Regions from separate parts of the Homo sapiens genome. Here region 1 is linked to region 2. The links come from fine-mapping of genetic effects on gene expression. Tissue or cell type: testis. Region 2 holds a variant in brackets; the other region holds the start of a gene. All regions are shown on one strand. Distances are between the middles of the regions.

What was found. PIP is the estimated chance that this variant, and not a neighbour inherited with it, causes the effect.
Region 1: it holds the start of MYT1, and the variant in region 2 is fine-mapped to the expression of MYT1 in testis (GTEx, PIP 0.97).

Annotation. Positions count from the first base shown.
Region 1 is chr20:64,161,601-64,166,745 of GRCh38, reverse strand. MYT1 (myelin transcription factor 1) reads right to left here and starts at 2,294. Exons shown (of 23, transcript NM_004535.3): 1 at 2,007-2,294. RefSeq lists an enhancer at 3,936-5,145.
Region 2 is chr20:64,186,837-64,191,981 of GRCh38, reverse strand. MYT1 (myelin transcription factor 1) reads right to left here. Exons shown (of 23, transcript NM_004535.3): 2 at 1,822-1,919. Among named protein-coding and RNA genes, the nearest start is that of MYT1, 25 kb to the right of the region's middle. RefSeq lists enhancers at 2,315-3,252, 3,253-4,190. The variant T/G (reference allele first, on the strand shown) is at 2,675.

The DNA of each region.
Region 1 (5,145 bases), 25 kb after region 2:
AGAGAGTGTTTCCCCACTCATGCACCAGGGGCATTCAAGGGAGTAGGTGACCACTGCCTTTGCCAGAATCTTCCAAGAGGGGCCAGAGCATTAGCTCTGAACAACTGAGGCTACCTCCAGATCTGTGGGCAATGGCTGAGGGTCACAAAAACCCTCGAGTGGCACTTTGGACAGAAGCAGCCCCCCTGCCTCGGGTCTCTGAAGAGGGCTACCAGGCCCTCTTCAGGGATTCATGGCCCAAGGAGGTCAGAGCCGAGGCTGTTCCAGAGCAGAAAGGCCTCTTTGTCCAACTCTCTGTGGCTCCTGCTCAAGCTCCTGGATCAGCAAGTACCCCTGGGAAGTTCGGCAAACGTCCAGGTGCCCAGGGGGTCGGGGGGACCCTGTAGGAGTCTCAGTCTCTACGGGACAGAAGAATCCATAAGACTGCCTCCTTCTCTTTGAAAACAAACTGCCCTCTAAGCCCTGACCCAGCCTCCTCTGCACAAGGAACAGCTACCGAGGGAGACAGGGCAGGGTCCTGCCTCTACTGATAGCAGCACCCTGGCTGGTACCACAGGACTCCAATCCCTGCTCTCTTACTCTTTTGTTTACCGTTAATTAACAGGGCCATATGGAAGGAGGCGATAATCACAGCCAAGGACCAATGGGAGGGGAGCCCGGGGTGGCAGGGAGGCTGGGGGCCGAGGGGAGCCTCCCTCAGTCAGCCCTGTAGAGGATACAGCACCCCCACTCCCCAGGCCAGAGTGAGGCCAGGACAGGCTCTGCTGGCACCTCAGAGGAGACAGAGGCAGAGCATACCCCTCAGCACCGAGTGGGCCCCCCCAGGTCTGCCCCACATCCCTCCCACCTTTTGTGCACTCAGCCACTGGCGTTAGAGGTGTCCTCAGTTTTCTGTGATTTAAAAGAAAAAAAAAAACTGCAAGGGCAAAATTCTCCACCGACCTCTCCCAAAAGGATAATTATAATCATCGCTGCCATTATCATCATCGTGACAGAGTCCATGCCCAGGACCAAACCCACCTGCAGCCACGGAACCCCCCGCACCACCGCAAATGTTTGGTTTCCAAAATTAAACACCCAACTTTACCAGCCAATGGTGTCCACTGATTCAAAGGTGATGCTGAGACAAGCAAAGCCCTTGGTGACTCAGGAGGAGCAGTGAGAACCCACCACTCCAACACAAAGCCACCAGCACTTGTTTATTTTCCTGGTTTATAGAGAAGAAAGTGAATTCAATAGACAGAACCAAAGTCCACGGCCCCAGAACTACAGACAATGGCATTAGGGTGTTCAACTTCTTAGCTAACCCTGATTTTTAGTTTTAAATACAAAAATCCAGTTACACTACCACCATAAACAACCACACTCCACAGCTGCACGGACACGTAGCGAAAAAAGGGGCTGAGAGGAGCGGCCGATATTTACTTCTGCACATCTATCCCACAGACGCATGCACCCTAGATATTGATCCTTAAGTTGAGAAATGCATGACATGCAGACAAAACGTTCACGTGAGCACCTCTCCTCAGTACCTTGGGTGGGGGTCACACATGACACACCCCAGACTCTGAGACCCTGCTTCAGAGAGGTCTTCTGCTTAAGCGGCCAGTGCTCTCCCCAGGTACGGGGCTGCTGGGTCCCACGGCCACAGACATATCCGTTGTTCCTCTTCCAGAAATGCGCATAAAGTTTCTGGTTTTGATATGCGCTCCCCTTCCCCTAATGTCTCCTCTGTCAGACGCACAACATGTCCCCTGGAATCTCAGAGGAGCATGAACAACAGAGAGACAGGAGAAAAACAGCACACGGCAGGCCAGGGAGGAGAAGAAAGCCCCCGTCCTCCAGAGCAGTTTCAAAAAGCCATCCTCAGACCTGCTTTTCCTGCAAACAGAGCCTTCATCTTAGAAATTAACTCTGCCCGCGCGCCCTCTCCCTGTCTCTGTCCAAGAGGAAAAGCCAAGCGTTGGGTATCTGCCTTTGTCAGAAAGAACGTAACGTTGACTTACCTTTCCCCACAGCTATTGTCTGTCCTCTTTCAAAATGACATCACGGAAAGCAATCATGAAATTTACATGGGGGGTGCAGGGTGGACTGGGGGAGGAGAGGGAAGGCAGCTGCCTCCCGTACAGCGGTCACATGTGGGGAAGCCTGCGTGCGGGTTTCAATTAAATATCTTCTCCCCTTAGTGTGCGAACTCCTAAGCCAGCTAAAGGCGACGTCTCATTTACTTAATGACTGCTCTCATTAGCAGCGGTGGCACGGGCTGGCGGAGGAGGCTCCTTTGTAAATACGCTACCCATGAACCCTTGGGGCTCCAATATATCTGTTTACTCTCTGAGGTGAAATAAATTTACAGTATAGCATCAGAAAGATGGATCTGCTGAATTGGGGGTGAGAGGTGTCCCAGTCCGGTGGAGTCCTGTGTCCTGCTCTGAGCCTCGGCCAACAGAAGGTGCCTATGTTTGTCCACACTGATTCATACTCAATGTGCAGCATGATTGAGTTTTTTTAAAAAGCAAAACACACAAAAGGGCAGAGAGCATCACAACCACCACATTCACCCCCCTCTGCTTTCTCTGCCAGTGGTTCAGTCCAATAATTCCTAATAGCAGCAACCGGAATGACAGATGCCCCGGGTTAGCATGGCTACAGCGAAAGTACTTTACAATATTTATTGGTGGTGAGGAATATGATCTACCATCATAAAGAGCGGGCTGCAGAATTTATTACTCAAATGAACCAGGAATATTACATATCGGCTCATCTGCATATTCAAGTACCCCTGACTTAAATGGATATGTATTTTTTAACGGCATAAAAGGTAACTATAGCCACAGACCAAAAAATAGAGTCATGCACACAAAGAATAGATCAGGAAAAGACATTTTTCTGTTCTCACACTTTCCCTTTTCACTTTAATTTTTACAATAATAAAAACCTTCCCAAAGAGAACTCAGGGATTCCTGGGCATGGGAACCCCCCCACAAAAAGACTAAGTTTATTGCAACCAGAGCGAAGCACACTGCCCAAGTTTTCTGCTCTTTTCCTGATTCTTTTATAAACGGCCTGAAAGGAGCTATCCAGTGAAAATCAAGAAGAGAAAAATCCATAACACACACAATAGAAGTGCTCACCCACTCTCTATGCAGCCTGACTGTCTGCCTTCTCATCTGCCAGTTTGTGATATTTTCCCCCACATTCAGGGATAAAGTGGGAATTTCTTCAGTAAGAGAACTCAAGAGCCAGAGTATTCTTGTTTGCGGCCCAAATCTCCTTCTTGTACTGATAAATCAGGCAAACGATTGTCCATTATCATAATCAGGATGTTAGAAATGAAACTGTGAAACACAAGGGTGAAAACTCAATGTGAGACGCCTGCAAAGATGCCGCCGTCCAAGGGCAGCTGGAGAAGCAGAAAACTCACATCTCAGAAGTTCAGTGCAGAGATTTCAACAGACAGTAAACATCATTTCTTGGTAAATTATGCAAGAGCACAATACCCCAACTTAATTAGCGCTAAAGGGCTCGGGCCACCAAAAGTGTGACTGAGGCAGAACTGAACACAGCTTTCTCTAAGAGAGCATGTTTTGAAAATCTTAGTGGCTTATTTTTAACATACAGTTTGTGCTTTACACGTTACATACAAACCAAAAGCTTCACCCCAAAGGCAAGTATCTTAGATTCTTATACGCACACATTATCCTCAACAAATAAAACACAAAATGCACACAGAGCAATTGTTCAGATTGAGCACAAGGACATAAATGCAAGCCTGCACTGGTCAAACTGAGGATGAAATATTAATTAGTCAAATGAGAACAGTTCGAGGTTTCCACAATGACTGCCTACCATTTTTAATTTCTGTCATAAACTTATATCCATTAGTATAAAAGGACACATTCAGCTGAGAGCACTCCTGAAAAGCCGTTTCTGTCTCCTCTGGACATGCTGTGAGTGCTAGGATGTCTTACACCCCAAACCTTCGGCATTCAGAAATTCTATTAAACTCTTATCGGCAGGCTGCAGGCTCCGGGCAGGCTTGCGGGCCATTGTTCCATGATGAATACAGAATCAAAGGGAGGGCCGTTGCTGAATCAGCCTTATTTCCCAACGACACCCAAGGTTTCATGAAAGCGACTTAATTCAGATATGCAACAGTCACACCTAAGAAACCACAGCGAAGCGGAGGTGGCAGCAGGAGAGATGAACCTGCGCAACACGGGCTTCGTGGGGCACAACAGTTTTTTCAGGTAATAGAAATTGTATTTGTGAAAACGTAAGTCTTTCGGCATTTCTCACTTCCCCTTTTGAACAATCACAGGCCTCCTGAGGTGTGGCGCTCCGGGGGTCGGGAATGGGCCCCCAGACCCTCTGTGGCGCTGCCAGGAGGAGCATTCAGAATGTGCCTGGAAACTTGAAATCGGTGCCTGCTGGCAGGACCTAGGGCGCCCTGGGAGCTCCCACCGGGAGGTTAAAGTGCTATGAGCAGTTTCCGAAGATGAGCTTTGATGAGTAAAGGTTCGAAGTCTTTAGCTGACCCCGTCAAGACAAAGGAGTCCAGGGAAAAGAGCAGGACAGAAGAGCGGCCGCCGGCACGTCTCTCCGGTTCGGCTGCCGCCCTTCAGCCCCTGGGAGGCGGCCTGAGCGGTGGGTGGATCCGAAGTCTGATCAGCACTTCGGACAGCGCTCTCCCCCCAGAGCGCCTCAGTCTTTGTTCTCCGCACACGGAAGCTTCTGAGCTCGCACCAGTATTCAGCTATCGCTGAACTCTGGGCTCCGGGCTGAGACAGAGAATTCCAAACCCCAACAGATCCCTGCTTGTAAGTGACAACAGCAAGGTATAGTCTTAAGCTTCCTTTCTTAGAGAGGGTGAAAATTTGTCAGGACTTTTTGAAATCATAAAATATTTTCTCTTCCATAACTGAGCATGTTGCACGCTGTTCCTTTGGGTTTTATTTCATAAAAGTCTGTGGGAAAGTCACATGTGACTTTTTAATAATATGTTTGGAAAGATCCACCAGGAAATAACTCCTGTCTGACTGGCGGGTCCTCAGACTCCACACGGGGAGGGAAACGGGAGATTTGCAAAACCAAACTTACGCCGCAGCCGCACTCGCTGAGAAAGCGCTTTGTGTGAGTGGGGGA
Region 2 (5,145 bases):
TAACGTTCATGCTCACATGATCTCATGCCAGTACAGCGCTATGTGAATCCTCAGGATCTGGGGTAGGGTGAGGGGAATGAGGCCAAAAACTCAATGATCAAGATAAATAATATTTTAATTCAATATTTAGAAACATCAACATGATGCAAAAAACCCCTAATAAACAAGATACCAAAACCTTAAATAAAGACAGGATCCATATTACTGACTCTTCCTTGTGCCCCAGGCTCCAACATGGATCAGCAGAGCACTGATAATCCTGCGGGAGCCAAAATATGAGCGGAGGTGCTCAGCAAGTTGTCTATAACAGACCCATTAAAATGTACATTCTCGCCACCAGATTCAAAAGAAAAAGGTTGGGTTTTGAGAGTAAAACACAAGCACCCCCAAATGAAGTTCCCACTACAACTGCATAGCCCTCCTTGCCTACACCCTACGCCATCACTGTCCTTGAGCCATGCCCTGAGTCACAGCTGGATCCTTGCTGGAGAGCATCTACATGCAAAAAAGAAAAAAGAGAGGTCAGAATCGGATCTCTGGGAAGGGCTTCAGCCTAAGCCTATTGTCAGCCTCTACTTCCAGCTGTGAGGGTCACCTGACCCTGGGGACCTGGCCTCATCCAGAGAGTATTGGTGGGAAGTTCTAGAATTAGAGGGTTGGTGGTGGAGAACAGTGGCTGTAAGCACATGTGATGTCACAGTTCGGGAGTGTCCCCGAAGGGAGATCTTATACCCTGGGAAGGTATAAGAAGGGCTTGCACCATCTGCCTCCCCTTAGGAAGATCGAAATAAAACAAGGCCAACAGACTTCATAAGCTCCTGCCAGCAATCTCTGCTGTCAGATCCTGTAGGGATTCTCAGCCTGGCCAGGTAAAAGCAGGGTGAATAGAGAACAGTTGCTCAGGCCTATCACAGAGCCCAGACGTGGTCACACCTCAAAGCAAGGAAGTGAGACTCTGGGGTCACATTTTCATTTTGGTGGGTTTTTTTTGTTTGCTTGCTTGCTTGTTTTCTGAGATGGAGTCTTGCTCTGTCACCCAGGCTGGAGTGCAGTGGCACAATCTTGGGTCACTGCAACCTCTGCCTCCCAGGTTCAAGTGATTCTCCTGCCTCAGCCTCCCCAGTAGCTGGGATTACAGGCGCATGCCACCATGCCCGGCTAATTTTTGTGTTTTTAGTAAAGACGGGGTTTCACCATGTTGGCCAGGCTGGTCTTGAACTCTTGACCTCAAGTGATCCACCTGCCTCAGCCTCCCAAAGTGCTGGGATTAGAGATAAAAGCCACCATTCCTAGTCCCTTTACTTCTGAGATAAGATCTGCACCCAGGCTGGAGTGCAGTGGCACAATCTCAGCTCACTGCAGCCTTGACTTCCCAGGCTCAAGTGATCCTCCCACCTTAGCTGGGATCCTCCCCCAAATAGCTGGGATTACAGGCGCATGCCACCATGCCCGGCTAATTTTTGTGTTTTTAGTAAAGACGGGGTTTCACCATGTTGGCCAGGCTGGTCTTGAACTCTTGACCTCAAGTGATCCACCTGCCTCAGCCTCCCAAAGTGCTGGGATTACAGGTGTGAGCCACCGGGCCCAGCCTGGGGTCACATTTTAGTTTTGATCTACTCAGAGTCATTTTTCTTCCCTTAATTTTAAAGTGACCGGATCATTGCTGATCCTAGTCCCCATTTACCCTTCACCTAACCCGGACTCTGGTGAGGATCAGACCAAAAGTCGCCTCCATGCTTCATGCCTGCAGCTGAAGAGAGGCTTTGTGCAGGCAGCCATGGGGTGGGGCCCTACGACAGGGGCTGCCCTCTCACGTCTCACCTTGCAGTGTCTGCCCAGGTGTCTTGAGGTCCTGCAGCTGCTGGCCTTGCCTCCGTGTGTCCACCTCTGATTTAACAGCTCACCTCGGAACTCATTTTCTGAGGGTTTAAAAAGGTTCAAGGTCAGAAAAGGAAAGCTTGGTGGGTGCCAGCCGTGCTGGCTCAAGGGGAGAAAGTGAGAAACTTGAGGCACTTTTTTAACATCATATATTCAATGCCTATTTCCTGGAATCCACCGGAGAAACAGACAAGGTCATGGCTCCATGGCTGCTTCAGGAACAAGAGACAATTTCTCTCTGACTTGGGGCCTCCCTGGAGTCTTCCTGCAGTCCCCTGCACTGTTGTCCCAGCTCTAGGTGTTGGTTCCCACTGACAACCACGGCCAGCAGAGTGCTGGGACAAGGCAGCTGAGAGCCACCTTGAGAAAACTTGGCATGTCACCCCTCCAACTTTGAAAATGAGCTGACTAATGAGTAATTATTCGCATTACAACCAGATCCTTCTGCCCCTCAAAAGAATGCACAGTACATATGCATTTGAAAAAGAAGATTGTTTTGCACGACTTCTCTGGAGCCCATTGATTGAAGAAAGTGAGATCCACCCATGGTCTCAAATCAGCTTTGCCTCCCGCAGGATCCCGGGGGCCCCAGCATGCTCTTTGCCCTGGTTTCCAGCATCTTTTGTCACCCTGTGTTTCTGCCTCTCTCCAGGGCAATGCCTCCAGTTAATATTTAATTCCTCACATAAATTCCCATGTCTGAGCAGAGGCTGAACGCATCAGCTGGACATGACAAAGAAACGCATTGTGTACCTATTCCCTGCACGTCACTCCCCGTTTCCATGACAACCTGCTT[T/G]CTACATAACTGCAGCATTTCAAAGGAAGGTCATTAAGTAACCAACAATGAAACAGGAAATGAATATTCTCGTGTTGGGCCCTGGCTTTGCCTTGGAAGTGAGTTTGGATTCTGCCGAAGGCACGCTATTCCCACCCACTTTCTTTCTTTTCCTCGTGTTTTTGATGTGCATCCCCAAATGCAATTCTTCTCTAGGGTTCTGGCCACTCCTGGCCCCAGGCAGCCCTGTGCCTCTGGCCACAGCACCCTCTTCTTATCTGGAAATGCTTCCATCCCATTAAAGGGCTTCGGATTACCTTCCAGAGCATAAACACAGAGGAAAGCAGATTTGGTAGTCAAGGAGACAGCCTAATACGAGGTCTACAGAGGAACGAATAAAACCACTCAGATTCGGCACCTACTGTGTGCACCTACTCTGTGCCTCCCCTCATTGAGCTGTAAGTCACCCGCAGGCCGTCGCTGAGATGACAGGGCTCCCACCGCAGGCTCCGGTGCCTGGACTAGTGAGGAGGGAGCTGCGGGAGCTTCCCTATCACCCAAGATCTCTAGGCCTCCTGGGTTCCCATCTGCCACTGGTCATCTGCACTGAGCCGGTGTGAGCGGCCTCTAACTGGGGCCCACCTGCCCACCAGGTAATCCAATTCTCAACTCTGTGACAGGGATGTGGGGTATAGGGAGGAAAAGCATATTGGAAGATTCCGTAAGTGAATCGACAAGAATCGTATCAGCCGGGGAGTGTGCTTCACACTTTGAAGATGGGGCGTGGGGTCCTCTGTGTGTCTCTTTTCTTATGTGTCAACAGAAGCTGAGAGACAAGGCCCCAAAGTGCACAGGGTTCACTTTCTGAGTATCTATCCCAGGAGACAAGATGCTGCAGAAACCTGCTCACTGGGCTGATTGGCAAGGCTCAAGCAGAATTCCTTGTTACCATTACATATGTATATATGCAAGACAACTGGGGCATGTCTGGCTGACAGCTGGAGGGAAGGACATAAGGTCTGTGTGCTCCAGAGGAGACGCTGCCTCTCCCGAGTGCGACTCCCCTGAGTTCTGCGCTGAGTCTCTCCTGCTTCTCAGAGAAGTCATGTGGACATGAACTGCAAGAGTCTCTGCAAAGGGACCTCCAGTTTTGTTTGGTGGGAGATAACCAGCTCACTGGGGCTTCTCCACCCACACCCACCCATGGGAGTCTGGAAATACAGCCCTGTGGAATTCTTCGTTGCCCACATCCCTTACACTCCTGTCCCTAGGTCAGTCAGCCCTGGGCTCTGAAGTCCTGAGGCCCTGAGGCCCCACATCTGCTCAGGCAGAGCACTAGCATCCCGGGGATCAACTGCTCCTCCAAAGAGCCACTCCTGCCTCCCTGAGGCAGCAAAGCCGCTGAGCTTCTCTGGGCAAAAGAGCAGAATGGCACCCGGTGAAACCTGTGCACCATACCCCTGGGTACAGAGCACACAAGTAACCACAAACCCCCAAGCGTAGACCCTCCTTTACAAGGGCCTGAGGACCCGGCTCAACCTTGACATGATAGCCTCCCTCTCCTAGGAAATGTCTTGGCAGCAAACGGCTATCACTACTAGAAGCCCAGTAAGGTATGCCAGTTCTTCTCCTGTGGCCCTCTTGGTCCCCTACTGGGGCCTGTGTATGGCCAAACCCTGCCCCATGGGCTCAGTAGGCTCCACCCCAGACAAAGCTCTCCTGTCTGTAGGCTCTGCTCAATCAGCATCTCTAGCAGCACATTAAGTCCCCATGCACCCAAACAACATGCCGGGGCCACGTGCCACAGGAAAACTCTCCACGGAAACGTGGATGCCGGGGCCACAGGCTACAGGAAAAGTCTCCACGGAAACGTGGATGCCGGGGCCACGTGCCACAGGAAAACTCTCCACAGAAACGTGGATGCCGGGGCCACGTGCCACAGGAAAACTCTCCACGGAAACGTGGATGCCGGGGCCACAGGCTACAGGAAAACTCTCCACGGAAACGTGGATGCCGGAGCCACGTGCTACAGGAAAACTCTCCACGGAAACATGGATGCCGGGGCCACAGGCTACAGGAAAAGTCTCCATGGAAACGTGGATGCCGGGGCCACGGGCTACAGGAAAAGTCTCCACGGAAACGTGGATGCCGGGGCCATGGGCTACAGGAAAACTCTCCACGGAAACGTGGATGCCGGGGCCACGTGCCACAGGAAAACTCTCCACGGAAACATGGATGCCGGGGCCACGGGCTACAGGAAAAGTCTCCACGGAAACGTGGATGCCGGGGCCACGGGCTACAGGAAATCTCTCCACGGAAACGTGGATGCCGGGGCCACAGGCTACAGGAAAACTCTCCACGGAAACGTGGATGCCGGAGCCACGTGCTACAGGAAAACTCTCCACGGAAACATGGATGCCGGGGCCACGGGCTACAGGAAAAGTCTCCACGGAAACGTGGATGCCGGAGCCACGTGCTACAGGAAACTCTCC